7 linked regions of the Homo sapiens genome follow. The protein of the gene in region 2 purifies or fractionates together with the protein of the main gene of each other region. This does not show direct contact. Each region holds a gene or a part of one and is shown on either strand. Other genes may lie near its edges.

Region 1 (4,734 bases), on a different chromosome or scaffold from region 2:
ACACCCATCTGCAGTGCCCCCCCTCACCATCTGTACTGTGTCACTGCAAACTCCCTTCCCAACACACAGGTCTGCAGTGTCCCCTCACCATCTGTACTGTGTCACTGCAAACTCCCTTCCCAACACACCCGTCTGCAGTGCCCCCTCACCATCTGTACTGTGTCACTGCAAACTCCCTTCCCAACACACAGGTCTGTAGTGTCGCCTCACCATCTGTACTGTGTCACTGCAAACTCCCTTCCCAACACAGAGGTCTGCAGTGTCCCCTCACCATCTGTACTGTGTCACTGCAAACTCCCTTCCCAACACACAGGTCTGTAGTGTCGCCTCACCATCTGTACTGTGTCACTGCAAACTCCCTTCCCAACACAGAGGTCTGCAGTGTCCCCTCACCATCTGTACTGTGTCACTGCAAACTCCCTTCCCAACACAGAGGTCTGCAGTGTCCCCTCACCATCTGTACTGTGTCACTGCAAACTCCCTTCCCAACACACAGGTCTGTAGTGTCGCCTCACCATCTGTACTGTGTCACTGCAAACTCCCTTCCCAACACACCCGTCTGCAGTGCCCCCCTCACCATCGGTACTGTGTCACTGCAACTGGCACATGTTGGTTTGCTCGTTCATCTCCCCAGCGAGCCTGGCATGCGCCTTCCACTGCTGGAGTCCCTGTGCCCAGTAAAGTTCCTGGTGCATAGCAGGTACTCAAAGACTTTGAAAATGAAATAATTCTTTATCCTACCCTAACATGGCTAACATTTTGTCCAAGTGACTGAACATGTGGAATTAGGATTTTGGATCCTTCATGGATCAGAGAAGAGAGGCGGTTTTGCTCTGAAACAGTAAAACTCTGCATGTTTGTAACTCCACAGGAAAACACTGATGATTTATTATTTCTTCTTTGTATATAGATAGAGTATCTCACCCTTTTGGGGAAAAAAAAGTCTTTTTGATGTGTTGAAAATTGTTTTAATCTTAGGTGTCTTCTGTTTATGAAGCAAGATGTACAGGAGAGAGAGATTCTGGAGCAAAGTCAGATGGCTTCCGCGGAAAGATGTGCTCCAGCGCCAGCTCCACCTCGGAAGAGACAGGCTCAGAAGGCGGAGGCGAGTGGGTGGGCCCTAGTGAAGAGGAGCTCTTTTCTCGAACTCATCTCTAAACCTGCAAAATAGTACAAATTATTGTTTAAAAATGATATGTGATGGAAAATTACTCTTCAGTGAGACCTGTTAATCTAAAACAACAACTTAGGTTTCCTCTTCAATTAACTGATTCAGATTGGTAATAATTATCTTTCTCTTCTTGCTTATTTTAGAGTTGAGGACAGCTATCCTGTTAAAGATTTTTTTTCCCAGCTGTTAAATTCTTGGCTATTTGAAATAGACTAGATTGTGTTGTCAAATCAAGAATGGGTGTGCATGTGCTTGTCTTAGAAGTATCACTGCTTTTTGCATCTTAACTGCAGTTAATTTTCCTTCCGACTGCGGTTATATCACTATGACCTTACTAGCATTGCAGTGTCAACAACCACTTCTGCTCTTCAGAGACTTCAGCTTTGGAGCATTTAGGCTTTGTTCTCCAAGAACTGGGATATCCATTCTTACCCTACAGTGGCTTGATGCCTTTCTGAAGGCGAGAGGGAAGCCTGGGTGACTCAGCGGTGGTCTCCATTCAGCAAAATCTCATGTACATTTCCAGTAGGAACCGCAGAGGTGTGCTTTTCAAGACTCACCAAATACTGTGTTTTCTCTCTTAGGATTTCTTTTCCCCTAAAGTATCACGGAAGATACTATGGTTCGTGACTTTCTTGCTAACTGAAGAAGCCAAGGATTTGGGGTGTGGGGTCGTATGCGAGACACAGTGGGGTAAGGGTGCATACCCCACCCCTTACCTGCTCTCATACTGCAGTTACATTTACACCAAAACCCCATGCAGGGTTCTTTGTGGTGAGTGTTCCATACGTGCTAAGGACCTTAGTTACAGATTGTTACTTTCTGGTGACCTATGTTGAATTGAAACCCCCAAAACTTGAAATTGTGAACATTTGACATGCAGTAAAGGCCACCTCATCACCCAGAGAAATCTTTGGCTGCTGCAGCTAGCCGCTTCTTGGCTGTGATGTAGTATAGCTTCGATCTCATTTTGTGTTTGAGAGAATGTTCTGGGCAAGTTCTGTGTGTGGTGGGTTGGGGCGGGTAGAGTCATGAGTTTTCCACATCCCTGTGTGGTGGTTTTGCTGACTGTCGCTCCGTGGGACTGGCTCCCGTTTCTCCTTGGTGAGCCCGGGGAGCCGGCGCATCTTGTGAGTCGCGTCTGTGCATGGCGATCCGCTCCTCCGGCTCTCATGGCATTGTGCCACAGGCAGAGGCCAGGAGGAGCAGTATGTGCACAGCCGAAACATTTTACATTTTTTACATTGTTTTTCTTTTTTAACCAACTCATTGTTTAAAAAACAAAAACAAAAAAAACCTAATCTGTGAAATCAGCGTAGCATGCCTGGAGCATCAGGAATGGCAGAAAAGTCTGATGCGCTCTAGACAGCTTCACCACTCATTTGGGCAGGCAGTAAACACACATATAATTTATTAGCTGGGAGCTGAACTGGCTGTGAAATCTATGATTTGCTTTGAACATTTGGGTTTTGTTGCCTTTTTCTTAATTGATAACACAGAAAAGAAAGTACCATCAAAGACTGTGGAGTCATTGAGGGTCTGTGTGTCCTCACCGAGAGGGACCTGGTGTGCCCGCCGGGTCGATCTTCCCACGTGTTAGGGTTTATTTTTATACAACACATTTTTTGACACTTTAAGGTGGGTGGGTGTGTGTGTGTGTGTGTGTGTGCGCGCGTGCGCGCGCGCATGTGTAAGGTTTTATGTTGCTGTTATTTATTTACGAACTTCAGATACGTTTTTATGTATTTTTCATTCTTCTGGAGCTTCCTAAAAATTGATAAGCATCTGCACTGAAATATAATTTAACAGCAAAAGTAAAAAAGGATTGAAAGTTGTAAATTCCTCATATCACTACAGTGACGATTATTCTAGAAATCGTTGCTTGTGTAGCAAAGACCAAATAAATAGATTTCAGACACAACCTTGAGCACAGTTGATTTTGGACAGCTGCTGTTTATTAGGAAAGGGCTCCAGGTGGCAAAGGTGCACACTTCCTCAGACACAGGTGAGAAGATGCAGCACCTTCCACAGGTGAATGGGACGGATTCGAAGTGAGCAAAGGGATTCACAAATTATGTATTTATTTGTTTTCATAGTTAAGTAGCTGAAGCTCAGAGGCTTTCAGCAACAGAGATGAAAGTGTGGCTTTTTAGTTTTGTGAATGGATGATCACAAAGAAAAAGCATTTTTAAAAAGTTGGCAAACGCTGAAACGCACTGTGGTATGAAGCGCATTGCATTTCCATAGCACTGAAGTACCAGTTTCCATTCCTGGGCTGAGATTGTTTTTCCCGTGGTTGTATTGTTCTGATTTCACGTACACCAGAGTAACTGATTTTTTTTTGTTTGTTTTCTTGTGGAGTTAACACCAAATAAAAATTGTAAAAAACAGTTTGTTGTTTTTATTTCTCATAGCAAAGCTTCTTTTGTAAAGAACTCCAGCTTCCTTTTACTCATGAGCATCCGTGGAAGAGCAAGTGCCCAGGTTACATTTGTTCTAGATGGAGGTCATTTAGCTCTCATTGCAGACACTGCTGAAAACATTGTGCAGCTTTGCTAGGGAAGAAAGTGGTGTGGCCTGCTGAGAAATCAGCGGCTCCTCCCCATCTCACCCCCAGCACACGCAGGGACTACTACCTGAGTCTGCAAAACACATAGCATTTTTGTCCGTGGATGGTACACAAAGCTCAATCTTTTTGTTTTCTTCTGGGGAAAAAATTAAATCTTTATATGTTAATATGATTGATATTCATTGTGCAAAAAAAATCAGTGTGTTTTTAAAGAAGTATAAGGGAAAAGGAAAACTCATATGTCCTTCTGTCACTCTGAGACATACACTGGTAACATCTGTGCAAGCCCCTTTCCAGGATTCTGAATGTACAGTATATATGAATGCATACACAGAGAAATTTACATTCAAGAGTGTACTATACTTGTTCTTCTATAACATCAGAAATAGGTTTTTACTCAGATGTCTTCATGTCGGTAATTATAGAACTACATAATTATTTTTATAGCTGTATTATGTAGATTTAACAGGTTCCTCATTGATAAAACAATGTTTTTTTGGTTGTTTATTCAGTATCTGAATAACGTTTCTATGGACATCTGTAAACATGTATGAGGGGACTTTTAAAAGTTCATGGAAAATGGAATTAAAAGAAAAATAAAAAAATATAAACTTTATTTCTCAACATAAGTTCCATCAAGTTCAAGATACTACTATAAGACATAATACCAACCATTCAGTCTATCCCTAAAGAACTGAGGCTCCTGGAAATTTCACCTTGTCAGTGTAGTCTCTGCATTGTGAACTGAAGAGAAATGGGTGCCCTTTACAGCTTTTTAAGATTAGGAAACAAAAAGTCAGAAGAAGCCCAATCAGGACTGCAAAGTGGATGCCTGATGATTTCCCATCAAAACTCTTGGAAAATGGCTCTCGTTTGCTGAGAGGAATGAGCAGGAGGAGCACTGTCATGGTGGAAAAGGGCTCTGGTGAAACTTTCCTAGGCATTGTTCTGCCACAGCTTTGGCTAACTTTCTCAAAACACTCGTCATAAGCAG
Region 2 (4,734 bases):
TCCGACCTGACTGAGGAGTTTTATCCAGTCACTTCTGTGTTACCTGTCATTTCCTACCCTTAGTGCCTTGTAGATTTGGAATGAAGATGGTCTCCTTTGCTGTGTTCAACTTATTCTTTATAATGGTAGAATATTCTTCTCGCTCTTTTGTGTTGGTTTATGAAGAAAATTTGCACATCTTTTTTGTCTTTCAATGAGGCTTGTGTTTTGCACTCTCAATTTTAAATACACACACATGCGTGTGTGCATATACATATATAGATAGTTGCCATTAAAGATAAATCATCAGTGTTGGTGTTTAAAAAACAAAAACTTGTTCTGAGCATGCTGCCTTATAATTTTCATACTCATTGTTTCTAAACTCGCATCATTTTTCTAGGCTACTTGATGCTCTGTAATCCCTTACTGGACAAACTTAAATAAGCTTTTGGTAGCTTTTAGAAATGGTTTTACTCTGCTTTTAAAGGACATGCTTTTAAAGGACATGCAATTAATGGCACTGGTTTTGTCCTGCACTTTGCTTTATCACTTATGTTAGTGGATAAAATATTTAAACTCCTAAAGACTTGTAAATATTGCCTCTTTGCATAATGTAAAATGTGGTATGCCATGGTTTACATAATGTAACATTACTCTTATTGTATTGCCAACAATTTTACATAGATTTTAATATGAATGAAGTTTGCAAGCATCCCTTTGAATGTAGAAACTGCTAACATGCTGTTTTATGGCAAGGCCATAATGAGTATGTTAAGAATTTCAGGTGTAGGGCAAGGTTGCCCTTTGTAACAAGTGGACTAAAATTGAAATTATTATCTCAGATATTCTGTATTGCACCTGAAACCATGACCTTTATTTTTCCATTTCGTTTAATAATTTCCATTTTGTTGTCTACTCCTTCCCACAAAAAAACTATTTGACATCTGACACATTTCACAGTCTCACTATCCTGCATTTATTAGCCTTTTCTTCCTTTGAAAATACACACAATTATGACTTTTAAGGAGTATTTTGAGATTTCAGACATCTTCAGAAGGTATCTAGACCCTCTTGAAAGCCACTAACACCTTTCTGCAGTTCTGATATTCTAGTTTGAGAAAGAGAGAGAACTATTTGAGAAGCTGTAGCTAAAGAGTATATAGCAGCTGATTCATAATTGAAAAAAAATTCTCAATTCTGTTTTTGATGATCCTTTATAAAACATTAATGAGGAAAGACAAGTGTTTAGACAAAAGTATTTTAGTTTATAAATTCAGCACATATGTAACATTTATTTGGTCCATATTTCTCTATTTTTCTTCACAATTAAAATGATTGCTAGCACCACACAACTAGAATTTGAAAATTCAGTATAATGAAAGCTTTATATCACATTAATTCAACTGCAAATGTATGCCTGTTTGTAGGCATTATTTGTAATTCATAGTGCTAAAAATAAAAGTGTCTAGGGCTCAGTAATATTTTGTCATCTTACTCTTACTGCTTTTAGTAAACCTTTTAGGCAAGATTCATCTCAGTGAAGTGAACAATCATTTCTTCATAGAAGGTCAAGCCTTTTTAAGCCACTCTTAAAATTTATGCCTAATTTGAAATCCACAGTCCTTGACCAGTTTAAAAAAGAGAGGAAAAAGAAGACACTATTTTATATGTGATTATAATTGTTTGCACAAACACTTTTCCACCTTCCTCTGTGCCCCATTACCTCTGTGCCACTCAGTCACCCCAAATCTCTAACCTTTAGTAATGTGTATGCCTGCAAATATTATGTGTTTGCCTGCTGCAAAATTGAAGGTGTATTTTTATAGACAAGGTAGAAGCCTCTGAAAATGTATACCAAATGTCTTGTTTTGTAGCTAAGGTCGGGAAAAATTGTATCTGAGGTTTATGTTCCAGCTAATGTTATCAAATTTATGCTTCAAACTGTGATATTTTAATACCAAAATCGATTTTCAGCATAATACAAAATATCTCATTTTCACTGATAGAAAATTGCTTTTAAGTGTTGATCCTTAGAAATCTTATTTTTTTCTATAACCTTAGAATTTGATCATATGATGGTCATAGGAACTTTTTCTGCCATGTATAAATCACACTTGGTTTTGCTCAAAGAACAGCATGAAGTGGTGAATTGTTTCCATGAAACAATTATTGAGAATGGGAATACAGTATATCTGGAAATGACACAGTATAATACAAGTTACAGTAGCATTTGTCACAAAAACCACTTGTCAGCATGTGTAAACTTAATTTTAAAGCCTATTCTAATCACTCGAGTTTATTATTTTATTGTTCGCTATGCTGGTTGACTCATCTTAGTTTCTTCAACTACCCAAAAAAATACCAATTTTTTTCCTCTCTTGTATGACTACTTTTTCAAACTGTTTTCCTTTGCAGGGGGCTGATTAGCAATTGAGTATTTTGTAATGTTTGGGCGGGGTTGCTTTGTTTTCAGTGAAATTGGTTGCAGTGAATGCTAAAATGACACAGCACACTGGTGATTAATTCCTCCCCCATGGAGCCTTTTTTCTGTTATGCTTAGGATAGAACATACTTGTAATTTTCCATTAGGTTAGTAACATACTTTTGTGAAAGTTGTTTTTAGACTGAAGAAAGTAATTTTGAATTTCTTTGTTACATAATATTCCTTTATGAAACTTGTGATAGTTTCCAGAGCAAAACATGTATTTGCCAAAGTATATAAATCTCACAAGGCTTTAAGATTACAAGCTAAAATTGTTTTTTAAAATTAATGTTCCAATGTTTCTCATTTGGCCCAAGATTCTGGCTTCATAAATTTGTCCAACTGGCTATTTTTAAGCTTGTCCTAAAAGCCAATAACATGTTTATTCCTAATAACTAATATGGGCAAGTGTTATTTACAGATTTATTAACTCCATCCCAGATATGTCTCCACTCTTTGTTCCCTCCTAATGCTAATTTAGGAAAGAGACCACTGTAGTAAAACTTTAGAAGAAGATGGAGAAGTGCCTTGTCTTTTTAGAACAAAGATAACACATTACGTGTAAGGAAGCATAATAAATGAATTGGTAGATGATTAGATTAGAAATCATCCTTTTCAACTAGGTCTAAGAATACTTTACTAGTGTATTATCTTTTATTTATTATGTAAAGCTTCTTTCCTTCCTTTTCCCCAATCATGATATATTAGTGACAAAATATTACAGAACCGGACTATCAGTCACTTAAAAAAACAGTATAATTCTAATGCTAGTAAACATGTAATTTAATTTAGTTCTGGAAGGACAGTTGTCTTTGATTAAAGCCCCACCAAAACCCATTTAAGTATTTAATGTACATACTATTCATATTATTATGGCCTGTAAACACTAATATCTGAGCAATCAAACTGTTTTATCTACCATTTTTGATGAAATTTGAATAAAGTTTAAAAACGTGTAAGCCTTTGAACAAATGTATGAAAGCTTTAAAAGATCATTAGCACTTTTATTTTGTTTACAAATAAGCTGCCATTTAAAAAAATAAAACCTCACTACTTGAACATAAAGCTCCCAAACAATATTGTATTAAAATGTACTATATTGACCTAGGAGGATATAGAAATTATATTCACCTGATTAACTGGAGCAGTTTCACATAGTAGAAATACTTTTTGCTAATTTGATTATAAGTGCTCAAATTTATTGAAATTAGATTCTCATGCCTATAAAAGTATACTTTAAAAATATTTTGCAACAACTGTCAAATTATTTGGGTTCCTTTAAATAGCAAACAATTGGGAAATTTTCCATAAAAATGAATAGGTTTTATTAATACCTGTTCATGTAGTATGTGGACTAAAACAATTGATATATATCTGTATGTAAAAATGAATGATCTTATCTTGCCCCAAATTTTTCTTACCTGATTCTGAGCCAGCCTTTTTGTTTTGATGGCACCCTGTGAGTATGTTCCATTTTCTGTGAACTTTGTCAAATTCATACTATATGAGGAAATGATCTAATATTGTGGGCTCCAGGCAGGTCATCTTAATTGCATGTCTGTCTCTTCTGTAAAATGATGAGGTGGAACCTAGAGCTGGACAAAAAATTAGAGATCACTTAACATTCTGTGATTCAAGGAATTCTTAGGACATTTTTACTCTATAGAATCTCAGAATGATTATTCTCAGATCTACTGTCCTTGGTGGAAACTCTCACAGTGCCTTGCATGCAGTAAAAGTTTGATTTGCCGACTGGCTGACGTGTTAATTATCACACAGACTCCAAGAACCTGATGCTTGCTAGACCTTAGTTCCTTGGTGATGCTAAGAGTAAATGTAGTTTTCCTAGGAACTGAGCACTGAGGTCTGTGTCCTTTGCCTGTGTAGAATCTGTCTATGCAGTTGGTATTCAGGCAAGAATTTTAGCTGTAACAACAATGGAAATATTGGAGGACCCACTTTGGCATTTATGTAAAGATTTCATATCCTATCCAACATTTACTTTAGTGTCTAATCAAATTCCATACCCTCAAAAAGATCTGTTGGAACAAATTGATAAAATTAGGTGGAAAGGAAAGTGGTATGGGACTCAAATACAAGTCACTTCTGGTTTAATTATTGGCTCTGCTGCTTAATTCCTCTGTACCTCACGTCCTCATTGTCGAAGTGGGGACAATAATCTGGACCTACCTCACAGGGGAATTGAGGATATTTTCATATATTAGTGTGCTTTGAAGTTGACTGAAAGATATACTGGATATCATAATTATATA
Region 3 (3,500 bases), on a different chromosome or scaffold from region 2:
TAGTTTTATGCTCCCACCTAAAATTTTTTCACTATTTTTATAAGATGTTAATTTCTTGAGTACTTTATTTATAACATGCCTGTACCTTGGGTAAACCAAGTAAACTTTTTTTTGTCTTAGGCAAAGTTTAGACTGTTCGTATGATGATACACTTTCTTTTTTATGTGGGTTTTTTTTTTTGCTTGTTTTTTATTTTTATTTTTATTTTTGAGACAGAATCTTCCTCTGTTGCCCAGGCTACATAGCAGTGGCACCTTCACAGCTCATTGCAACTTCCACCCTCCTGGCTTAAGCGATCCTTCCACCTCAGCCTCCCAAATAGCTGGGACCACAGGTGCCTGCCACCATGCCCAGCTAATTTTTGTATTTTTAGAGAGACGGTGTTTCACCATGTTGCTCGGGCTGGTCTCGAACTACTGAGCTCAGGCAATTCTACCCACCCCAGCCTCCCAAAGTGTTGGGATTACCAGTATAAGCCACTGTGTCTGGCCTTTTAAAAATTTTTGCATGACTTTTCATCTTTTTATGTGTGTTTCCCATTTGTTTGATATGAGGGAAAAATTTCTAATAGCTTGAGAATCAAGGGGATGGGGATTTTGGTTGTAGGCATTTTATAATAATTAACCCCTTAGCAGTGGTGTAGAAAAATAGGTAAATTTTTTGTTTCAAGACTTAAAACTACCTCAAGAAGAACAATCTAATGTAACAGTATTTGTAACGCTTCCAGAGGTCTCAGATGAGGAATTTTTTTGTAAATGGTTTGGAAGAAGATTAAAATATCCTGGGTTAGCGTAGTAACATTACGGTAGGATCCTTAGGTTGATGCTGACTTTTGTTTGGGGTAAGTTTATATTTTGTGTGGTGTTTATTTACTTTTTTTGAAGAGGAGGATGTAGTAGGAGCAGTGTTACAAATCAGTTTAAGTAATGGAGTAGACCCTGTTGTCAGTGGGGCATAGATGAGTTATGAGGGCTAAAGCTTGCTCTGATGGTCTCTTTTTGTTTTGTTTTCTTTGCTTTTATCTTTTGTTTTACATTTGGGGAGGGGAGAGATTTTCCATTAAGGAAGGTTATTGCTAGTGGATTTGATTCCAAGGGTCTGGGGTGTCACAGTAGGGTTGGGGAGGGGCTGCAGGGTGATCCTTGGCTACTGAACCTCCACAGAGAGCATGTGGTGCCCCTGCCCTTTCAAGATAATTTACTCTCTTGTTAGTTTTGCAGGCCACCTCAGATTCTCTGTTGAATTGCTGTTAAGAAATACAGACCAGTGTTGTTTCTGGGCTCTCGTTGGGTGAGGTTTTCCTGAGTTTTATGTCTCTTCTTAGTTCACATCGTGTTACCCAGAACACATGCTTCACTGTCTTCTGAACAGGCAGTACTCCTGTGGCTCTGTGTCTTGGCTTGTTTAGTTTTTTTCAGCCTTGAAGGCTCCTTCCCACACTTACTGACATCCACTCATGTTCCTGGTATGACCTGGATTGCTGCCTGGTCCCTGCAACCTCCCAATGCCCTTTCTGCTGCATTCCCAGAGCACAGGACTTTTCTCTTTTCTACTGACCTTGCTTGGTTCTCCCTTGTGGGTTAGTAATTTCTGTCTGTCTCTTTGCCCCTCACTAATTGTTCACCCATGAGAATTAGGTATTATTCCTTTTAAATATACAGGGACCATATAGTCTTTATCTTTTATACATGATACTTATTACTCAATTTTGTGTGTGCAAGGTATCTGGCACATGGACCTGTGATTAGTAGCCTGAGGTCAACAAATCTCAGTTAGAATGCGTAGGTTAAACAAAGCTTTTTTTTTTTTAAATTTAATTTAATTTTATCTTTATAGAGATGGGGTCTCACTATATTGACCAGGCTGGTCTCAAACTCCTGGCCTCAAGTGATCCTCACATCTCGGCTTCCCAAAGTGCAAGGATTATGGGCATGAGCCACTGAGCCCAGCCTAAACAAAGCTTTTAAAAGCTCCTGCAACCTCAAGGTTGTTAACCTGGTCATCTCATGGTAATTAGAAACTCTGATTGGCTGCTTTAGATTTCTTGATTAAAAACCTAAGTAAACTGATTAAGTTTTAGGCATTCTTTCAAAGGTTTCTCAGTGAAAAGATTGGGAACTATTCTATTTGGTGCTTTGTGAAAATATTTTGAATTAGTATATGTGCCAGTTATTGCCATTTCTTAAGTCCAAAATGTTTTTCTGGTCAAATAAATAGCAGTTTTTCAAAAACAAAAATTAGCTGTGTGTGGTGGCATGCATGTGTAGTCCCAGCTACTCAGGAGGCTGTGGGAGGACTGCTTAAGCCTGGGAGATCAAGGCTGCAGTAAGCTAAGATGGTGTCACTGCACTCCAGCCTGGGTGACAGAGTAAGACCCTGTCTCAGAAAAAAAAAAAATTTATAGAATGATCCTATTTTTGTATAAGACTAAGTATACACACACACACACATACTTACATTATATATACACATATAGTAAAAAGTTTATATACATGTGAATATATACAAATACGTATGTATGTGTGTGTATATGGAAGAGTTTTGCAAGTATCAGTTAATGGGAATTCATGATATTCTAACTGCTTTGTCTTAATCTGGTGTATTCTCCTTGGGGAACTACAGAACTTGGCTCTATATTATTTATCAAAAGAGATTGATATTACATTAGATTATCAAGAGATTTCTGTCTTCTCTGGGTTCCAGTGCCTTAGGAATAATTTTTATCTGGTATTCCTTCTGATCCTTGTTATCACCAGTACACACTGGCACTACCATCTTGATTACTTCACTTTAGTAAAATTTCCTAGGAAATTAGTAGATTGCTGTCCCCACTCCAGGTTATATATGTATAGGAGTACTTTTTGTTGTTATTGTTCACAGATTCATTGAGTTGCAATTGGCATATAATAAACTGCACATATTTTTAAGGGTACAGTTTGATGAGTTTTGACATATATATTTATACCTGTGAAACAATCACTGCAATCAAGATATGAACATATCTGTCACCACCAAAAGTTTTCTTGTGCTCCTTTGTAGTCCCTCCCTCTCTCCTATATTCTTTTCCTCCCTTCTGCTTGCCCCCAACCCTGCATTTTGTAGAATTTTATTTTATTTTAGAGACAGGGTCTTACTATGTTGCCTAGGCTGGCCTCAAACTCCTGGGATCATGTGAACCTTTCACCTCAGCCTCCTGAATAGCTGGGACTATGTAGAAATTTTATTTTATTTTTGAAGACGGGGTCTGGCTCTGTCACCCAGGCTGGAGTGCAGTGGTGGGATTTCGGCTCACTGCAACCTCTGCTTTCTGGGCTCAAGCCATCCTCCCACCTCAGCCTCCTAAGTAGCTGAGACTACAGGGTCACACCACCACGCCCAGCTAATTTTTGTATTTTTTGTAGAGGCAGGGTTTCACCATGTTGCCCAGGCCTCAAGTGATTCGCCTGCGTTGGCCTCCCAAAGTGCTGGGATTACAGGTATGTGCCACTGTACCCAGCCTA
Region 4 (4,734 bases), on a different chromosome or scaffold from region 2:
GGTTGATAGGTGCAGCAAACCACCATGGCACATGTATACCTATGTAACAAACCTGCATGTTCTGCAAATGTATCCCAGAACTTAAAGTAAAAAAAAACAAGAAAGTTGTCCTTCTGGCAATATTTCAGTTTCTAATATGCCCAAGATATTTAAAATGATTTAAAATCATTTAAAATGATTATCACTGAACAGATCTTTCATTCGTAGAAAGTAAATAGATTTTAATTCTGTATCAAATTGATAAAAGAGTAGCTGCCCAGTAAATATGTTTAAACATGCCTGGGCTTTGCAGGAAAGATTGTCACAGTTGCCTGGGGAGGTCTGCCATGAATGGGAGTACAGGAGGCGGCAGTGTGAGCACCAGTACAGAAGTATCACAGACTCTTGACTCCTGAGGAAGGTGACTGCTCAGATGCACTCAGTACCTCAACTGGGTAAAGAGATGTGAGACCTCATAATCCCCAGTCTTTCACTTTGGTTCCTTGATCTGCAAACTGACTACTAAGCAAGTTAGCCAACAACCTACTTGGTCAGCAATCAGCTACTGTGTGGGTAGCAACAGGTCTGTCTTGTATTTGAACATTTAACATGAGAGATAAAGCTGAGGATTTTACACTGATCTTCAAACAATCTTAAATGAATGAATTGGACTTTTGGAGAGATCTAAAAATGTAGACAAATCTCCGATTTCATTTTCTTTATTTTACTACAATTTTAGGTTAAATTAGTGTTTATCTGAGTATGTAAATTGTATATTGATTTAAAAAAGGATTATTTCATTCTGCTGCTCTAGGAGGTTGTATTTGATATTAACTTGGAATTATGTGGGACTTAAATCTTTAAGATGGTATCTCAGAGACTAAAGAAATGAATAGGTTAGCACAAATTCTCTTCCCTTCAAGACATGTTTTATTTATTTGTCTTTGCTACAGGTTACAGAATCAGAGTGTGCACCAATCCCAACCACGGGTATTGGAGGTAGAGACTACTCCAGGATCCTTGAGAAATGGTCCAGGGGAAGAATCAAACTTCAGAACTTCATCACAGCAGGAAATCAACTATAGCACACATATCTTCTCTCCTGGAGGCAGCCCCGAGGGAAGCCCAGTTCTAGATCCCCCACCGCATCTGGAGCCTAATAGATCAACAAGTAGGAAACATTCAGCTCAGCACAAAAATAACAGAGATGACAGTTTAGATTGGTTTGATTTCATGGCAACTCATCAGAGTGAACCTAAAAACACTGTTGTTGTGTCTCCTCATCCCAAAACATCTGGAGAAAATATGGCTTCGAAGATCTCTAACAGCACATCTCAGGGTAAGGAGAAGAGTGAGCCAGGCCAAAGGAGCAAAGTGGACATTGGGTTGCTTCCATCACCAGGAGAGACAGGTGTTCCATGGAGGGCAGACAATGTGGAAAGTAACAAGAAAAAAAGGCTAGCACTAGATTCTGAAGCAGCAGTCTCTGCTGATAAACCAGACTCAGTACTGACTCATCATGTCCCCAGGAACCTGCAGAAGCTGTGCAAAGAGAGGGCCCAGAAGTTGTGCAGAAATAGCACCAGGGTGCCTGCACAGTGCACAGTCCCTTCCCATCCTCAGTCCACTCCTGTACATAGCCCAGACAGAATGCTGGACTCACCCAAAAGAAAGAGACCGAAATCCCTTGCGCAAGTGGAAGAGCCTGCAATTGAAAATGTTAAGCCTCCAGGTTCCCCTGTGGCCAAACTGGCAAAATTTACTTTCAAGCAGAAGTCAAAACTGATCCACTCCTTTGAAGATCACAGCCATGTGTCACCTGGTGCAACTAAAATAGCAGTTCATAGTCCTAAAATTTCCCAGCGTAGAACAAGAAGAGACGCAGCCTTGCCGGTGAAGCGTCCAGGAAAGTTAACATCTACCCCAGGAAACCAGATCTCCAGTCAGCCACAGGGTGAGACAAAGGAGGTGTCGCAGCAGCCACCAGAGAAACACGGACCAAGAGAGAAGGTGATGTGTGCCCCTGAGAAGAGGATTATTCAGCCTGAATTAGAGCTTGGGAACGAGACTGGGTGTGCTCATCTTACTTGTGAGGGAGACAAAAAGGAAGAGGTTTCAGGCAGTAATAAAAGCGGCAAGGTTCATGCCTGCACATTAGCCAGATTGGCAAACTTCTGCTTTACTCCCCCATCGGAATCCAAATCAAAATCCCCTCCTCCTGAAAGGAAGAACCGAGGTGAGAGAGGCCCAAGCTCCCCTCCTACAACCACAGCTCCAATGCGTGTCAGTAAAAGGAAATCTTTTCAGCTCCGTGGGTCCACCGAGAAACTGATTGTTTCCAAAGAATCCCTCTTCACTTTACCAGAACTAGGTGATGAAGCATTTGATTGTGACTGGGATGAAGAGATGAGAAAAAAGTCATAGTTGGGAAAAGCTTTCTGGTCAAATCTCACCTTCTTCAACTCCACAGAGGACCTTCAGGATATCAATATGGTATTTATAAATGTATAGAACAATTGGCCATATTGAGGATCACTCTGAATACTGGCTCCCCCTTAAGGCTTTCTAATTTCAGGTTAATCTTCATGACTTAAAAAGTTGTATAATCAGTTGAGGTCAGTGTGATACCAGCAGCTGAGCTGAATTAATTATGTTGTGCTTAATTTTACAAATGGAGTACTTGTATTCCTGTTCCTGAAGCTGTTTCTGTTTTTTGTTTTGTTTTGTTTTTAAGGGGGAGAGGTTCTTCCCTAGATTAATTTCTTCTTTCATTCACTCAGGAACAAATGTCAAGAAGGTAGCACTCATAAATCTAACAAGGCAGATGAACTCTTTTCTACTTTTTTTTTTTTTTTTTGTATTTTCACCTGGAATGGGCTAAGTACAGTGAATATAATCACTTGGATGATTTGCCAAAATCAGACTATTTTTCTAGTATTATTTTTGTATTGATTTGTGTGGATCAGGTTAAATGTGACTAATGCTTTTCTTTCTTTGAGAGGTATCCTTACAATTCCATGATGTTCTTAGAGATCTGGCCACTGGTCAAACAGTACCTTTCTGAAGTACTGACCTTCTGAGTTGTCCTTTCTTTCTTGAGCCAACATTTTGTACTTCAGATTCTTTTTTCTCTTGGGGGCCTACCTTCAACCAAGTAAAATACTGTGATTAGAAGAAGAGAGAGTATGAGCCAGGCACAGTGACTCACTCCTGTAGTCCTAGCTACTCGGGGAGGCTGAGGCAGGATGATTGCTTAAGCCCAGGAGTTCGGGGTTACAGTGAGCTGTGGTCACACCACTGTATTCCAGCCTGGGTGACAGAGTGAGATCCTGTCTCTAAAAATAAAATAAATGAAGAAGAGAGACTATGTGGTAGTCTCAATCAAACATCATGTCTCATCTACCCAGCTGGTTAATATGGAAATGTGATTCCTACTAAGTTGTGATTCACTTGTCTTTAAAACCAAGGAAATTATATACTGTTTTTGGTCAGAATAGATAACCTCAAGCTTTGTCTTTCTATGTGCTTTTAAAATCACTTATTCCTTTGGATTCTAATAAGGGTTATTAGGATTCAGTAATTATGGACTTTCTCTTCTGAAGTGTGAATTTGTAAACTGATTGTTTAATTGTCAGAGGGACTTTTGGACATAGAATACTCAAAACTATATGTATTTTGTTTAATTTTCACTTCATTCAATTCACGCATTGAAAACAAATTTAGAAAATCCAATTTTTCTTAAGCATTTAAACGTTCTAAAATTCACTAATAAAATTTTCTGAAAAAATTTAAACTGTGAGTACAAATTTAGTGTGGCTGAGTCTTGAAATGATTGGCCATAATGAGTACCATTCTCTGAAGTTTGAAACACCTTAAACAGCTGATAAAAGACATATATAAACAATGATTATAAAATTTATTATTTCTGTACCTGTTTAATAATTTACCAGTATACTATGATTCTTAATATATTCCTAATCTTTCAGTTTTATTGCTTTCCTGGGTTTCAGTGTTCTTACCAGAACTAAAGGAAAAGGAATGGAAGTGGGTTTTTGACCAGCTGAATCTTGATCTGGGCGTGGTCTGATTATTTAGATGAGGATGACTCAAACCTAAGCCACAGTGTGGAGCTGACTTTTTTTAATGGTAAATTTTTAAGTCCATGTCTTATGAATTTTTGTCTTTGAAACTTGGTATCTTTTGCAGTAATTATGTATTAGGTTTTGCATGGCTGACAGTACCTAACCTATTGGCATGTCATTAGGGTATTTTGATCTGTTATGTTATTTAAAATATTTGTATTCTTTATTGGGACTTTTGGTTTTAGAGGTTTCATTTTTAGTAATGAGAGATTTAATTTTCATAGTTACCTTGTCTCTTTAGGACACTGAGTAATTCATATTTTAAATTACATGTTGAATTGTCTTTCTTCCTTGGTCATTGTGTATGACTGCCAATGCCACCTTCTACCTGGTTATAATTTGTGCCCACCATGCATCCTATTATTTTGTGCTAATCAATCCACTTTCCATTTTAGTACCTTCTGTCAAGATTTGGCCAAATTACCACTTCCATATGTTTATTCTTTGGTACTTACCCAGATAGAAATAACTACATACCTAAATATTTTAAACAGACATAATTATTAGAAGAAATAAAATACCCAATACATATTGAATATCCCTTATCTGAAATGGTTAGGCCTGGAAATGTTTTGGATTTTGGATTTTTTTGGATTTTGGAATATTTGCACTA
Region 5 (4,734 bases), on a different chromosome or scaffold from region 2:
ATTTCCTGACAATTTTGTATCAGCCCACTCTCTATCTCTTTTTGCCTTTAAAAATCCACTTGTAACTGCTGCTAGATTCCAGGCAACTTGAATCTTTGCTCCCAGTTTACAATCTTCAAGCTTGGCCCAAGTGAACTGTCTACTTACATTTGTGGTTCCTCAGCTTTTTCCTATGAAGGAGGAAATTAAGGACATATTATTTAGAATGTGCCAGAGCAGCCTTTATGAGGGGATCTCTCCTTTGGTTGTACTTTTGCTGTAACACCCAAGAATGCAGAGCCAGGTTGACCCCATCTAGAATCTTCACATGTCTGGCCTGGGATTTGCAAGACAGGAGCAGACTTTGGATTGAAAATGTACAGAAAACCAAGAGGAGGCATTCTCTGCATTGTGAGATGTCAACATAGACATCTTAAAGCTACCTCCTTTGAGAGTGTGGCTATTTGAGCTTTTCAGATCTTGTTCAGTGACCTGTTACTGTTACGTGAGAGGTGCCAGGTATAAATAGAATCTGATGGCAGAATCTGTAAATGTAAACAAAGCATCTTAGGAGTGAGAGATCAAGGCCACAAAGTATCCAGAGCCATGACTACAACTATACCTACCTGTAAAAAATGTGATACTGGAGTAGAGTATTCTTGTCCTTTCTCTTACCCAAAGACTACCTGATCAGGACAGGTAATCCAGGTTCTGGAGCTCCACCAGGGCAGTTCTGTTTTCTATTTAGAATCAGCCTAAGTCTCTACTGCCTGGCTTACTACTGGGCCATCAGCCCAGGATCACTGAGAACCCTCTCACAATCACCTAGGCATCTTTGAAACATTTGAGGATGTCCAGAGTAAAACTGTGTTAGGCTGACAAGAGTGGTTCATTCTGCTTTTGTCTCAGTGTAAGAGAAATGAGTCACGCCAAAAAATGGGGGCTTCATTTGGGCCGCTTCTTTATATTGTTGTGACTTCTGAGGTCATCATTTGAATGGATGTTTATGGACAGAAGAGTTGTTATTATTATTTCTGTTTCTTTTACCTTGTTAAGAATACATATTTATCTTCTAATACAATTATGCTAGAAAGCCCTAAGAGATTTGTTTAAATTGCTTATTAGTATATGTTATAAAATTGACAGGGCAGTGGCTAAAAAAGATTAAAATTACACAAACTGTGGGATTTAAGTTTCTCTTAGGTAAGCTTAGGAAAAACAGAACGGAAATACCCCAGTGGCATAGAGAGCAGAATTCTACATAGTGTCCTCTCCCTGCCCCATTTCTGTTCAGATTCACCCTTTTTGGAGGCCTTATTGAAGTCTGGCTTCACCTTGGAGTCTAGCCTTACAGAACTGATTGAAAGAGAAGTGTTTTGGGTGATGAATTCGGCTGCCTTTCTAGAGCTGTTGCTCAGGATTTCTTGAAATCTAAAAGCAGATAAATGGGAAAAATAAAATAATATTTTAGGGCCTTAATTTCTTAATTTTGTATTAAAATCAGTGCATGCAGAAACATGCCATTTAGCAACTTATTCCTTATTCTATTCCTGAAGACCCAGTAGTTGCTCCACAAGCCACAAACAAGTAAATATAAACACAATAAAAATTCCTCCAAACTACGTTAAACTCTTTTCTTTATTCCTCTCATCTGTCTATATGTAGCTTTTATTCTGTACATTTTTCACAAAAAAAATGACAAATATAAATGCTGGGCCCTTTTTCTAAATTCTGGCAATTATTAAACAAAACCAACTCCCAGGGTGTTACGAGGATTAAATCACGTAATGTTTTATTCCTAGCAGTACTCTGTAACATACTCTTGAGGACATAGTACCTGTTTAATAAACATTGCATTAGTGCATGTGTAAATGTTGTTTTCCAAATGCAGACTTATTTGGACATTGCTGGCCTCTGTTTCCTCTGTAAACTTTAAAGAGCCAACAAAGAATATACTTTAGGATGAAGATTGGTTGTCTTTATTTGTACCAGAAGTATTTGTATTTTGACAAGAGTGCTGAGTGTAAGGGATTCTGTGATGTGCCTGCTTTGTCTAACTAGTGCTAATAATGAGCGCAGGGGGAGCAACATCAGCATCTATAGAGGACTTGTTTAAAATACCCTTTCATGGACCATTTTCAAACCTGCAGAATCACATTACATAGAGTGGGGCCAAAATCACCAAGTGATTTATAAGCTTATCAGTGCTTGAGAGATAATAATTAGCTAAGCGTTTATCAGCCCAGGCTTCTGATTAAGATTACATAGCCAGTTTGCAGAAATCTCTATTTGTGCCCTCCCCACAGGTTCTGTTCTATTGTTCTGGAAACATCCATATTGCTTTAAGGGCCTCATGTGACTCTAAGGTGAGGCCAGAATCAAGTATGAGGGATTCAAGATACATTCGTGAGTGTTAAGTTCTATCTTCGCACTAAAGGGTGGTCACAAGGCCTGTTTTCTTTGGGTTTGGTAGGGACAGGGCAGAGTGCCCCATATTTCCATTACTTTAGCAAAAATTGTTGGTGTCTGTGGTAGCAGAGGGCATCTGAGGACGGGAAAGGAGATATCATTATCTCCATAGAGCAGCTTATTTTTCCTGAATCTCTTCTGTTATAGAGGACAGAAATGGGTGGACTTTTTCTGCAGGTCTTGGACCTTCTGCCTGTGGGTGTGGTGGTAGCAGGTAAACAGGTGGTGCCGACACCTTTAAAGCCATATTCTTAAGATTCAGGTGTAATTTCTCCAGAGAATCATCTGAGAAAGAATCCCAGAGCAGGAAGAGAAAGAGGAAAAAATGGCTATTTTTCCGCTAAAAGTGTCTCAGATCAAGAGCTGTGTCCACTGTGCCTCCTGGAATGCCATGTGTTTAGTACTTATAAACCTTCTCTACTTGTGCTTTTCCTCCCTAATGAGTTTGTTTTAACTACTGTAAAAAATTTTCATTATAGTCAAGTATCTGAAAAATTTTTATTTATTTATTTTTGAGAAGGAATCTCACTCTGTCACCCAGGCTGGAGTGCAGCGGCATGATCTTGGCTCACTGCAACCTCTGCCTCCCGGGTTCAAGCAATTCTCCTGCCTCAGCCTCCTAACTAGCTGGGATTACAGGCGCGTGCCACCATGCCCGGCTAATTTTTGTATTTTTGGTAGAGACGGGGTTTCACCGTGTTGACCAGGCTGGTCTCGAACTCCTGACCTTGTGATCTGCCTGTCTTGGCCTCCCAAAAGTGCTGGGATTACAGGCATGAGCCACCGCACCCAGGCAAATATTTCTTCCTATATACTGGAGCCTTCTCTACATCATGGCTTCTTATATGCCATGTAGAATTCTCACCATGAATTTATGATCTTAAAAATGTTCCCTTTGTGACTATTGAATATGGGAGGATGAATATACTCAAGATTCCTATTGGGGAAAAGCTGGGGTCCTTAGTCAAGGAGAACATGTAATATTGAGGTTTCATCTGTCTTCTCCATTAGCTCTATGCAGAACAGGATTAAGAAAATGCTTTTTGAAACAGGATGGCATTTACTACCCAGAAAGTTCTGAAGAAAATTATTAGGAGATATATGTTGTCTAGGGTGCTAAAGAAAGACTATTTAAAATTACTATTAAAAATTGCAGAACATGGGAGATATCTGTATCTCAAACTTTGCATAAAATGGATGTTTCTTTATGGTTAAATTCAGGCTATAATTTACTTTTTGGGGAAGTAATATCCCAGCAGTGATGCTGTGTCCTTCTGTTCATCAGCACATTATAAAAATTTGTCCTAGTTCAGTTGATATTAATGATTCACTTGGTTAAAGAGCTCTCTGACAGATTTTTTCACTATAGAGTTAGTAATTTTTCTCTCGATTATTAAGTATCTGTTTTCTTTCTTCTTTTTTTTTTTTTTTTTGAGACGGAGTTTCACTCTCGTTCCCCAGGCTAGAGTGCAATGGCGCAATCTCGGCTCACTGCAACCTCCGCCTCCTGGGTTCAAGCAATTCTCCTGCCTCAGCCTCCTGAGTAGCTGGGATTACAGGCACGCGCCACCATGCCCGGCTAATTTTTTGTATTTTTAGTAGAAATGGGGTTTCACCATGTTAGCCAGGCTGGTCTCTGAACTCCTGACCTCAGGTGATCCGCCCACCGCAGCCTCCCAAACTGCTGGGATTATAGGTATAAGCCACTGGGCCCAGCCAGTTATTAAGTATCTTTATGCAGCTGATGTGCATAAACCATTACAGTTAATCTGGCAGCTGCCCTTCTTTATTAGGTTTTCTTTGCATATATCTGTCTTTGGAAAATGAAGGCTCTCGTCTTTGTTTATGGGTCAGAAAAACTGGGAAAACCCACACTCCTCCCCCTTACTGGATGCTTGACAAAATAATCTTCTTGGGCAAAAATCATTGGCATTATTGGTGATCTTCTTAGAAATTAAGAAACTCAGACTTTATTCCAGATGTTCTGAAAAAATATATGCATAACAAGATCTTCAGTTTATCATACACATTAAAATTTGAGAGGTCACTTCTAACTCCATGTCTTTTCCATCTGAAACATATACACTCAGAAATGTACGTTTGTGTTCATGCCCTTAATTTTATACTTTATCATCCAGAAAAGTATCATGTATACACTGGTGTTATGGATCTTATGTCATTCTCTTTTCTCAGAGTTAGAGAATACATTAGAAAATATTTCTGTATTGAAAATTATTTTATTGGATCATTTCAGTCACTCCTGTAAGTCAGAACTTGTTCTCTTTA
Region 6 (4,734 bases), on a different chromosome or scaffold from region 2:
CGATTGGCCTGTGCCGTAAGTAACTACGTAGTTGATAAGTTTTCTGTATGTTGTAAAAATAAATAGGTCTGAAGATGTTGTGCAACTCATGAAAATCTAACTCAGTAGCTAAAATATTTATAAAGCCACACTTTTCAGTAAAATCACAGGCAATTTTTAATTACTAGTCAATAGTCAGCCTACTAACAGTATATGTTTTCTTACATTTCATAAAGAACATGGGTAAAAGCAAGGGGTATATTTTTAAGTAGATCTTGTCATGAATTTCAATTACTTTTATATTAGAAATCTTTAATAGAAATGGTAAAGGCTTCACAGCTCTATACTACTAAAAAAAGAACTTTTTGAAAACAGTTCCATTACAGATGTGCCTTTTTGCTGTACTACAGGAAGTCCCTGAAGTTATTATTAGTGTCTTAAAAAAGTATATAAAATGTTGACAATTGTTACATCAAATGCTCCAAATTACTAAATATAGGCATTAATTTTAACATATTACATTACCACCAACGTGGCATACCTGTGCTTTAAGATTTAACCTTAAGCAGGTGCTTAACTTAAGAGGAAGATGCTTTTCTTGAACTTGTACCTTGAAGTCCATCTCATTGTTTAACATTTCACCACTGAGGGTACCTTTTGAAATGGGCCTGAGTGGTATCTCTCCTGTATTTTTTGTCAGATTCCTTCTTGTCACTATGAAATGAAAACAAACTCAACTTTACTAAGGACATTGTAATCTTACTGCTTTGTTTTTATCGTGTGTCCCAGGGAAATCAGATGCAGGCAGTCCTCAGTACACTGAGCAACACTGCTATGAAGGGAATAGGTAAAGAGAAAGACTGAGACTGAATGGAGGCTCTTCCAGCTTGAAGATTCTGTGACTGTCATTCAGTCACTGGGTGTTGTACTACCTCAAGGGTAGTCATCACATACTGTGTCTAATTGTCAGTATTTCTGTATTTTAAGTCATACCTGTGGAAAGCACTTTTTGATTACAACTTCGCTCAATGTTCATATGTGATATTATCCTTTAGAAGGCAGTTATATTTCCTTGAAATGCCAGTACATCATTTTAAAACTGTACAGATATACCCAGAAAATCCTCATGTATTAATGGGGATTGTCTTCATTTTTTTTTTTTTGCTTTCAAGGAAACAGGTAAGAATTGAAATAAGTGCCAGTTATGTGAGAGAATACAAAAGAAGCAAGCCAGTAAAGAATTTCATCTAAAAGTATATATAAATAGAAGATGAGAGAATGAAAGACTTAAAAGATTAAATGTAGACCATGAAGCATTGATATTACCAAATGTACCAAAATGTAAACTTAATAAGTTAAAATATGTAAGTTCGAGAATCTAGATAGTGAAATGACTTCAGATAATGAGAAGGTTTGTATAAAATGCAAAGTGACAGGCTAGGTTTGGTGGCTCACACCTGTAATCCCAGCACTTCGGGAGGCGGAAGCAAGTGGATCACCTGAGGTCAGAAGTTTGAGACCAGCCTGGCCAACATGGTGAAACCTTGTCTTTACTAAAAATACAAAAATTAGTCAGGTGTATTGGTGGGCACCTGTAATCCCAGCTACTTGGGAGGCTGAGGCAGGAGAATCCCTTGAACCTGGAGGTTTCAATGAGCTGAGATTGTGCCACAGCACTCCAGCCTGGGCGACAGAGCAAGACTCTGTCTCCAAAACAAAACAAAACAAAACAAAACAAAACAAAACAGAAAAACACAAAGTAACAATGAGAATGAATTGGATTTTATGAAATCTTAAAAAATTAAAAATATTTTAAAATGTTGATTAAATAATTAAGCCAATGGTTAAACATGGTCCTCGGATGAAAAGTTCAGGGAATAAAACAAACTCCTGGAACAGAATAACTGAACTCTTAAAAGGAACATACAAGGTTGCATTTTTTGTAATAGGAATAATTAAATAAAAGGCCAATAACCTACTTTAGAGGAGAAATAAGAATGGGGTAAAAATTATTCAAAACAGCTGTATTTCTCAAATACTTTTGACTGAGGTATATTATAAAAAATACCTTTAACATCCCAATCCACATAAAAGAACTGAAACAAGTTTCCTGAAACAGGACAAAGTGCAGTGCCCTCTGATATTTTCTATTCCTAACTAATCTTTATAAATCCAATCTGTTTCAAGCCATTTTATTAAACAAAAAATACTAGGTATTATCTATCAAATTGATTTCATGACTTATAGTTTGAAAAACACTGGCCTAGAGTGCCTGCTTGCCTTCTTAGAAATGGAGGTCTCTAGGCCTCATCCTTTGATATTCTCATTCAGTGTTTCTGGGGTGGGGCCATGGAATTTAGATTTTAGCACATGTAGCAGGTGATTCTAAAGCAAGTAGGAGGTCCTCCAATTGACTTTGAGAAACCTCAGTACAAAGGACAGATGGCCTAAGATTGGATGTTCTGAATGTGGGGCTGAAGTTCATTGACTTTATGAGGTGTCTTGCATCTTCACCATTCTTTGGCTGTATTTCAGTCAGTATGTTTGCAATACTGAGGAAGGTCCTCATCACCCTCTGTAGGTGCTCCTGTAGTAGAAGGTGTAGTACAAGGAACAGAGGCCGTACCACCAAAGAGCTCTAGGTTCCACTCCTGCTGCCTCTATTGCTTATTAGTTGCGGGACTCTGAGCATGTTACCTCACATCCCTTAAACTTTTATTCTCATATGTGCACAATGGGTATGGTAATGTTTACCATGCAATAATATGGGGATTACACAAGACAGTAATGAATGTAGGACCCTTATTCACAGTTAGCGCTCAATATATAGTCTCTGTTTTTGTAATTACATCTCATCTCACCCTACCCTCCACTGTTTGAAATTTCTGAAAGCCTTTTAGTTTTTTTTTTTTCTCTAAAGTGATTCTCACCTCTAGTTATCATGAAACATGGGTATGTTTTTAACTAGACATGAGGTGCTGGACAAGTAATTTGTTAGGGAAGGAAATAATAAGAGTAACCAGAAGGAGAAAAGCCAAGCACAGCTGAGGCACGCCACAGTAAAGTACAGTCCTCCTTCAGGTTTGGGGAATGATTTTCCCACCTCTTTAAAAAAGTAGAGTATGGGATGAGAGAACAGCTCTTTTCATATTTCACGGTAGTTCTCCCTTGTCAGCACAGGGCATTCTCTCTGGTGACTTATAGATATTAGAATGTCTTAGAGTATCAGTTCTCAAACTTTCTTCCGTCAAGACACATGTGTAATCCCAGCCCTTTGGGAGGCTGAGGAAGGAGGATTGCTTGAGCTTAGGAGTTTAAGACTAGCCCGGGCAACATAGTGAGACCTTGCCTGTACTAAAAATAAAAACAAATTAGCTGGGGGTGGTGGTGTGTGCCTGTAGGCCCAGCTACTCGGAGGCTGAGGTGGGAGGATCACTTGAGCCCGCACGGTTGAGGCTGCGGTGAGCCATGATCGTGTCACCGCACTCCAGCCTGGGTGAAAGAGCAAGGTCCTGTCTCAAAAAAAAAACCAAAACAAAAACATGTGACCAATGTTTACATATGGGACATTATGATTTCCCCTGGTTAACAGACAGATAAATTATGCTGTGAGTTTTATAGGTAGTTCACAGTGTGATAAAGCCACTCCTTTTTTAAAAAAAGTCAAGAAAGGCATATCAAATTGCAAGTGAGAATGGTGCTATAATGAAAACTTCGAATATACTTAATAAACACATGGAAAATTGTAAATTATGGTACTTTAATTGTTCTAATTGGGGTGTTCCTCATAAACAAAACCCATCCTTGTGTCAAGGCATGGAGATTGAGAAGTGTTACATATGTAGTGCTTAACAAATTACATTGCACAAAATAGGCACTTGAAAAGAGGGGCAAGCTAAGGAGAAGATAAATGGGGAATACATTAAATCCCTGAAATCTCAAAACAATGTGAAAACCAAAAGCTGGGGAAATGTACAGAAAATACAGAAGACTACAGGTATCAGGGTTTTCAAATGGTACTGTCGTACTCAAATACACATTGACACAAAAATTTAAGTAGTCTCAACAATCATTAAATTTATGTGAATAAATCAAAATTAAGTGACTTTGGCATTTCCTAATTTTTAAGGTTATATTTGCCAGGAACGTCTTCCCACTTTGCTAAATTTTAATTTGCCATACGTTTTTGATCTCCGGTAAATTAATAAGCTCTCTATATTTTGAAAACGCCTCAGTACTTTGATGTAGTAGTATTGGAAATAGATTCACAATCTTTTATCTAAAAAGCTCTGAAAAACTAAAAGTTTTTTTTTTCCTTCAGAAGTGTGGTATCAAAACTCATTTGGTAGCAAAACCTAACCCATACTGTCATGGGATTGTTTAAAGTAGTTTTCAAGCCTGCTTAGAATATTCACATATTTTGCTGGAAATAATAATATTGATTAATTGTGAGGTATTATCCTAGATATAGCTAGGAATGTTATGTAATATGTGCTATAGGTACCATTTTGCCTTTTTAAACCCCACAAAAATCTGAATCCTGAAGCATATCAGGACCTAAGGGTTTTAAATAAGGGATTGTGATCCTATTGCATTAACTTCCTTGGTTGGTAGAGTGAAATTCTCTGATATGCCTAACCACTTAACCCAATGAAAAATTATTTTGCTAACTTTGATCACTGATCATTGAACAATTTAAGTTCCTTGCCAGCTAACAAATGATGAAAGATTTTTTAACATTATATATTACCTCAA
Region 7 (4,734 bases), on a different chromosome or scaffold from region 2:
GCAACCAACAAATCCATAATAATCCTCCTAGCCATAATATTGTTCACTTAATAACTTAAAACTATGAAAGATTTTTGCAAGGCATTTATAATGTATTCTAGTATTTTTCAAATTGGAAGCTGTAACTACCAAAAATTGAGAAGACTACCATGAAGAGCTACAGAAAGTGATCTCTATGAAAGAAATAATGCCAGATGGAAACTTGGATCTATACAAAGGAAGGATAAGTGCTGGAAAAAGTAAATATGTGAATAAATATAAAAGACTTTTTTTCCTCATTGGCAAAATTTTAAAACTAAAGCAAAAATATTAAGTGTATGTGCAATTTATAACATCTATAGAAATAAAATCTCTGACAACAATAGTAAAAAGGCAGAAGGAATATGTAAGTAGTATACACTGTAAAATCTTAAATTACATGTGAAGTAGATATCATTTGAAAGTACACGATGAAAAGTTAAGCTGCATACTATAAACTGCAGACCAACTCCTAAAAAGTAAAACAAAGAAGTCAAAAGGATGAAAGAAGATACCAAGCATATACCAATCACATGAACGCCGAAAGTCTGTATTAATGTCAGACAAAAAAGACTTCAGAACAGTGAACATCACCAGGGATGAAGTGGAACAGTTCATAATGCTAAAGGGGTCAATTCGTCAATAAGACAAAGAATAACACCTAAGAACAGATTTTCAATATGCATTGCAGCGAAAACTGATAGAACTGAGAAGAGAATTAGACAAATCCATTATTATGATTGAATATTGAACGTTCCAATCTCAGTAATTAAAGAAAAATTGGACAGAAAATTCGTAGGGATACAAAATATCACTAACGATTAACTCAAATTGACAAAGAACACCCGACCTAATACATTTTCTTGTCAAGTTCATATGAACATTTACCTTGTGTTGGGCCATAAAATAAGTATCAATAAATTGAAGAAATTGAAAGTATAGAGATATGTTCTCTGACTGTAGCAGAATTAAACTAAAATCATTAACAGAAAACTAGCTAGAAAACCCCCAAATATTTAGAAACTAAACAACACACTTCTAAATAATCCAAGAGTTAAAGAACAAATCATAAGAGAGATTAGGAAATATTTTGAAATAAATAAAAATGAAAACATAATGTATCATATTTGTGGACTACAGCTAAAGCAGTTCATGAAGGTACATTTATGGCTTTCAATGCTTAAATTAGAAATGAGAAAAGTCTAAAATCAATTATCTATGCTTCTACTGTAATGTGTAGGGTCTGAGGAAAGAGGAAATACTAAAAAGTGAAAATCAGTGGATTAGAGTGAAAATCAATGACAACAGAGAAAAACCAACAAAACCAGAAGTTGGTTCTTTGAAAAGATTAATAAAATTAATAAATGCACCAAGACTTTTTGAGAAAAAGAGAAAAAAATCAATTAACAACTTGAGAAATAAAAGAGGAGGACATCATTATAGATCCTACAGATATCACAGGAAATATTATGAACTATATACCAATAAATTAACAACTTAGGTGAAGCAAATTCTTTTGAAAAACACAAATCATCAAAACCCACTCAAGAAGAAATAGGAAAATATGAATAGTCCTGGACCTATTAATGAAATTTAATTCATAATTTAAAACTTTCCCAAAAACAAAATGCCAGGTTCAGATGGCTTCACTACTGAATTCTACAAACAAGAAACAAAAAGAAAAACTGGTAGAAATCCTACACAAACCCTTAAAAAAGAGGAGGAAATAGATCCCTACTCATACCAAATCTCTTACAATAAAAGAAAACCATAGACTAATATCCCTCATGAACATGTATGCAAAACTCCTTAATAAAATATTAGATCAAATCCATCAATGTATTAAAAGGGTAATAGACCATGACCAAGTAGATTTTATCCTGGGAATACAGGCTGGTTTGACATTTGAAAATCAATTGACATTTCACCATTATTAACAGAATAAAGGAGAAAAACCATATGAACAGTTGAAAATTCACAAATTTTAAGCTCAGAATCTTCACCTCTCCCCACTCCCCAATAGTTATACTATTTACTTACTATGAATCAGTGTGATATGATATAAAGAATTCTATTCTAGAAGTTGGGAGACAGGGTTCAATTGCCTAGACAAGAGTGGCAAAACCCATAATACTCAAACATTACATAGGACTGAATGTAGAAATTATATTTGAAAAGAAGTATAGGGACAAGTGTTAAAAGCAGACTCTGGTGCCAGACTGTTAGGTTCAAATCCTAGTTCCATCATTTACTAGCTGTGTGACCTTTGGGCAAGCTACTTATCTCTACCTAAATCTCTTCATCTATAAAATAGAGATGATAAATAAGAAAAACCAGGACACTATTTTCTATTATTCCCTTCCCCTCAAGTATCGATCACTCAATTCAGGAACACAAAGTCAAATGAATCAGAGCTTATAATTGTCAATTTTCTGCTAAGAAATGAGGACGGGACTAACATTTATATTTTTCTCTTTCTTGAGATTTACAACATTTCCCAGATAAGTATCATATATTAATGTAATGTTCACCAATTAAATTTTAAATATAGCTCATTCAGTTCTATCAAACATTTAACACCCTTTTTGGTTTGTGGCCTTCTGAAATAGTCTTTAATTTGGAAATCTCCCCCATTATAGCCAAATCAGTTTGAGGAAACATAATTTTGGGGAGTTGTAAAACTGTGCTTAAATTCTAACACAGTTAAAAAAATGCTAAAATGCTAACATGCAGAATAGATATTAAACCAACCCATTTGGAAGTATTTCTTATTAAATTTGTATCTTAGTGATTCTTACAGACCCTGATGTGAGTATTACCTCTTCCTTTGCTTCAGTCTTACTTGAGGGACACTTTCCTTGTTTAAATATCTTTCCAGAAAAATGCTATCCATGTTTAAGATTCCAAACACTTTCATGCTAATTCTTAAGTCAAGACAGATCTTAATTATGAAGACACAATTGTTAAACTCAGGAAGAAACAGATTGTTCCTATATATTTAGAATCCAGGTAAATAAGCAGCCTTCTAGATACTATTTCATGGTTAAAAGACCACTTTGTTTCCTTGGTATTATTTATTTAAAACTCCCTATGTGTCAATATCCCATCCTAGAGCCCAGAATTAATACTGAAAGCTAGAAATTTGCTAGTGACCTGGATGGCTTAATAAAGCTGAATTCAAATTATATAAAATAATTCTTAAGACTTAGGAATGTGAAGCAAGGGTTTTTTCCTTAAAGCAGGACATTTTAACAATTAGTCAAAATACATTCATACAAAATCTTATATATAGTTTAACAGATAATATCCTTTGTTATCTATAAAAGAAAAGTCTACGCATTATTGTGCAGGATGACAGTAAATGCCAAAGAGAGAAAGACTATAATGGAAGGCAATGAAAGTTGGCTTCTTCGGACTTTTAAGACTCCAAACCTATATGTCAGGTCTGCTACATACCAGCTTGCCAAGCTTATTCCTTTTTTTTTTTTTTTTTTTTTTGAGATGGAGTTTTACTCTGTCACCCAGGCTGGAGTGCAGTGGTGCGATCTTGGCTCACTGCAACCTCCACCTTCTGGGTTCAAGCAATTCTCCTGTCTCAGCCTCCTGTGTAGCTGGGATTACAGGCGCACACCACCACACCAGGCTAATTTTTGTATTTTTAGTAGAGATGGGGTTTCATCATGTTGACCAGACTGGTCTTGAACTCCTGACCTCCGGTGATCCACCTGCCTCGGCCTCCCACAGTGCTGGGATTGCAGACATGAGCCACCGTGCCCGACCAAGCTTATCCTTTCTATGCTTAAGGTTCTATAAAATAAAGAGGTGATCTCAAAGATCCCTTCCAGTTTCCTTTCTTCCAATTTAAAATGATGGCAGTCTCAAAATGAAGACATGAGTATAAAAATACTGTTCCATCTTAAGAAACAGAGAAGCAAGCATTAGTCCAGCCTGTTTTTATGGGATTCTGTAATTCTGGTAATAGTTTTCTTTGCTATCACCTGTTATGAATACAACTGATAAGCAGGAAATGTAATATGTGTTTAAAGAATAACTCCATCTTCACACCAATGTATGAGAAACAAGAGCACAAAAAAATGCTATTTTTCTTAAAATTAAAATAGGCAACCATCTGTTAAGGAATACTGTGATAAAGCCAAAGTAGCTTATATTTCAAAATTCAAGTAGCTATTAAGAAGCTACCATAGTAAGCCATGGCCCACTTAAAAAAGAAAAAACTTCCCATGTTACAGATACATGTAAACACCATTTTTCATATTAAAGCCTAACGGCTCCTTATTCAACATCTTCCAAATACATAAACATTGATTATCTCTAGCCTAGTCAACATTAAAAGTGCTGCCATCTCCATCAAACTACATTTCCTTTTTTTTTTTTTTTTTTTTTGAGCCAGAGTCTCACTGTCACCCGGGCTGGAGTACAGTGGCACAATCTCACCTCACTGCAACCTCTGCCTCTTGGGTTCAAGCAATTCTCCTGCCTCAGCCTCCTGGGTACTGGGACTACAGGCACGTGCTGCCATGCCCGGCTAACTTTTGTATTTTTTGTAGAGATGGGGTTTCACCATGTTGGCCAGGCTGCTCTCGAACTCCTGACCTCAGGTGATCCACCCTCCTCAGCCTCCCAAAGTGTTGGGATTACAGATGTGAGCCACCGTGCCTGGCCCATCCAATTACATTTGAATCTTCTCTTCATTCT

What was found.
Region 1: the proteins of CHIC1 (region 2) and KIAA0232 purify together in Homo sapiens (affinity purification with mass spectrometry; one large-scale study listed by BioGRID and IntAct). This does not show direct contact.
Region 3: the proteins of CHIC1 (region 2) and KIFBP purify together in Homo sapiens (affinity purification with mass spectrometry; one large-scale study listed by BioGRID and IntAct). This does not show direct contact.
Region 4: the proteins of CHIC1 (region 2) and MCM9 purify together in Homo sapiens (affinity purification with mass spectrometry; one large-scale study listed by BioGRID and IntAct). This does not show direct contact.
Region 5: the proteins of CHIC1 (region 2) and ZNF92 purify together in Homo sapiens (affinity purification with mass spectrometry; one large-scale study listed by BioGRID and IntAct). This does not show direct contact.
Region 6: the proteins of CHIC1 (region 2) and BBX purify together in Homo sapiens (affinity purification with mass spectrometry; one large-scale study listed by BioGRID and IntAct). This does not show direct contact.
Region 7: the proteins of CHIC1 (region 2) and NUFIP1 purify together in Homo sapiens (affinity purification with mass spectrometry; one large-scale study listed by BioGRID and IntAct). This does not show direct contact.

What each region holds. Positions count from the first base shown.
Region 1 is NC_000004.12:6,879,809-6,884,542, forward strand, and holds the end of KIAA0232 (uncharacterized protein KIAA0232), read left to right. Parts: intron 1-978; coding exon 979-1,158; 3' UTR 1,159-4,356; downstream 4,357-4,734.
Region 2 is NC_000023.11:73,680,992-73,685,725, forward strand, and holds part of CHIC1 (cysteine-rich hydrophobic domain-containing protein 1), read left to right. Parts: coding exon 1-14; 3' UTR 15-4,734.
Region 3 is NC_000010.11:68,991,803-68,995,302, forward strand, and holds part of KIFBP (KIF-binding protein), read left to right. Parts: exon of another isoform or gene 1-66; intron 67-3,500. UniProt on the Homo sapiens protein: Activator of KIF1B plus-end-directed microtubule motor activity. Required for organization of axonal microtubules, and axonal outgrowth and maintenance during peripheral and central nervous system development.
Region 4 is NC_000006.12:118,812,493-118,817,226, reverse strand, and holds the end of MCM9 (DNA helicase MCM9), read left to right. Parts: intron 1-932; coding exon 933-2,403; 3' UTR 2,404-3,772; downstream 3,773-4,734. UniProt on the Homo sapiens protein: Component of the MCM8-MCM9 complex, a complex involved in the repair of double-stranded DNA breaks (DBSs) and DNA interstrand cross-links (ICLs) by homologous recombination (HR).
Region 5 is NC_000007.14:65,383,076-65,387,809, forward strand, and holds part of ZNF92 (zinc finger protein 92), read left to right. Parts: intron 1-4,734. UniProt on the Homo sapiens protein: May be involved in transcriptional regulation.
Region 6 is NC_000003.12:107,528,696-107,533,429, forward strand, and holds part of BBX (HMG box transcription factor BBX), read left to right. Parts: intron 1-4,734. UniProt on the Homo sapiens protein: Transcription factor that is necessary for cell cycle progression from G1 to S phase.
Region 7 is NC_000013.11:44,943,741-44,948,474, forward strand, and holds part of NUFIP1 (FMR1-interacting protein NUFIP1), read right to left. Parts: intron 1-4,734. UniProt on the Homo sapiens protein: Binds RNA.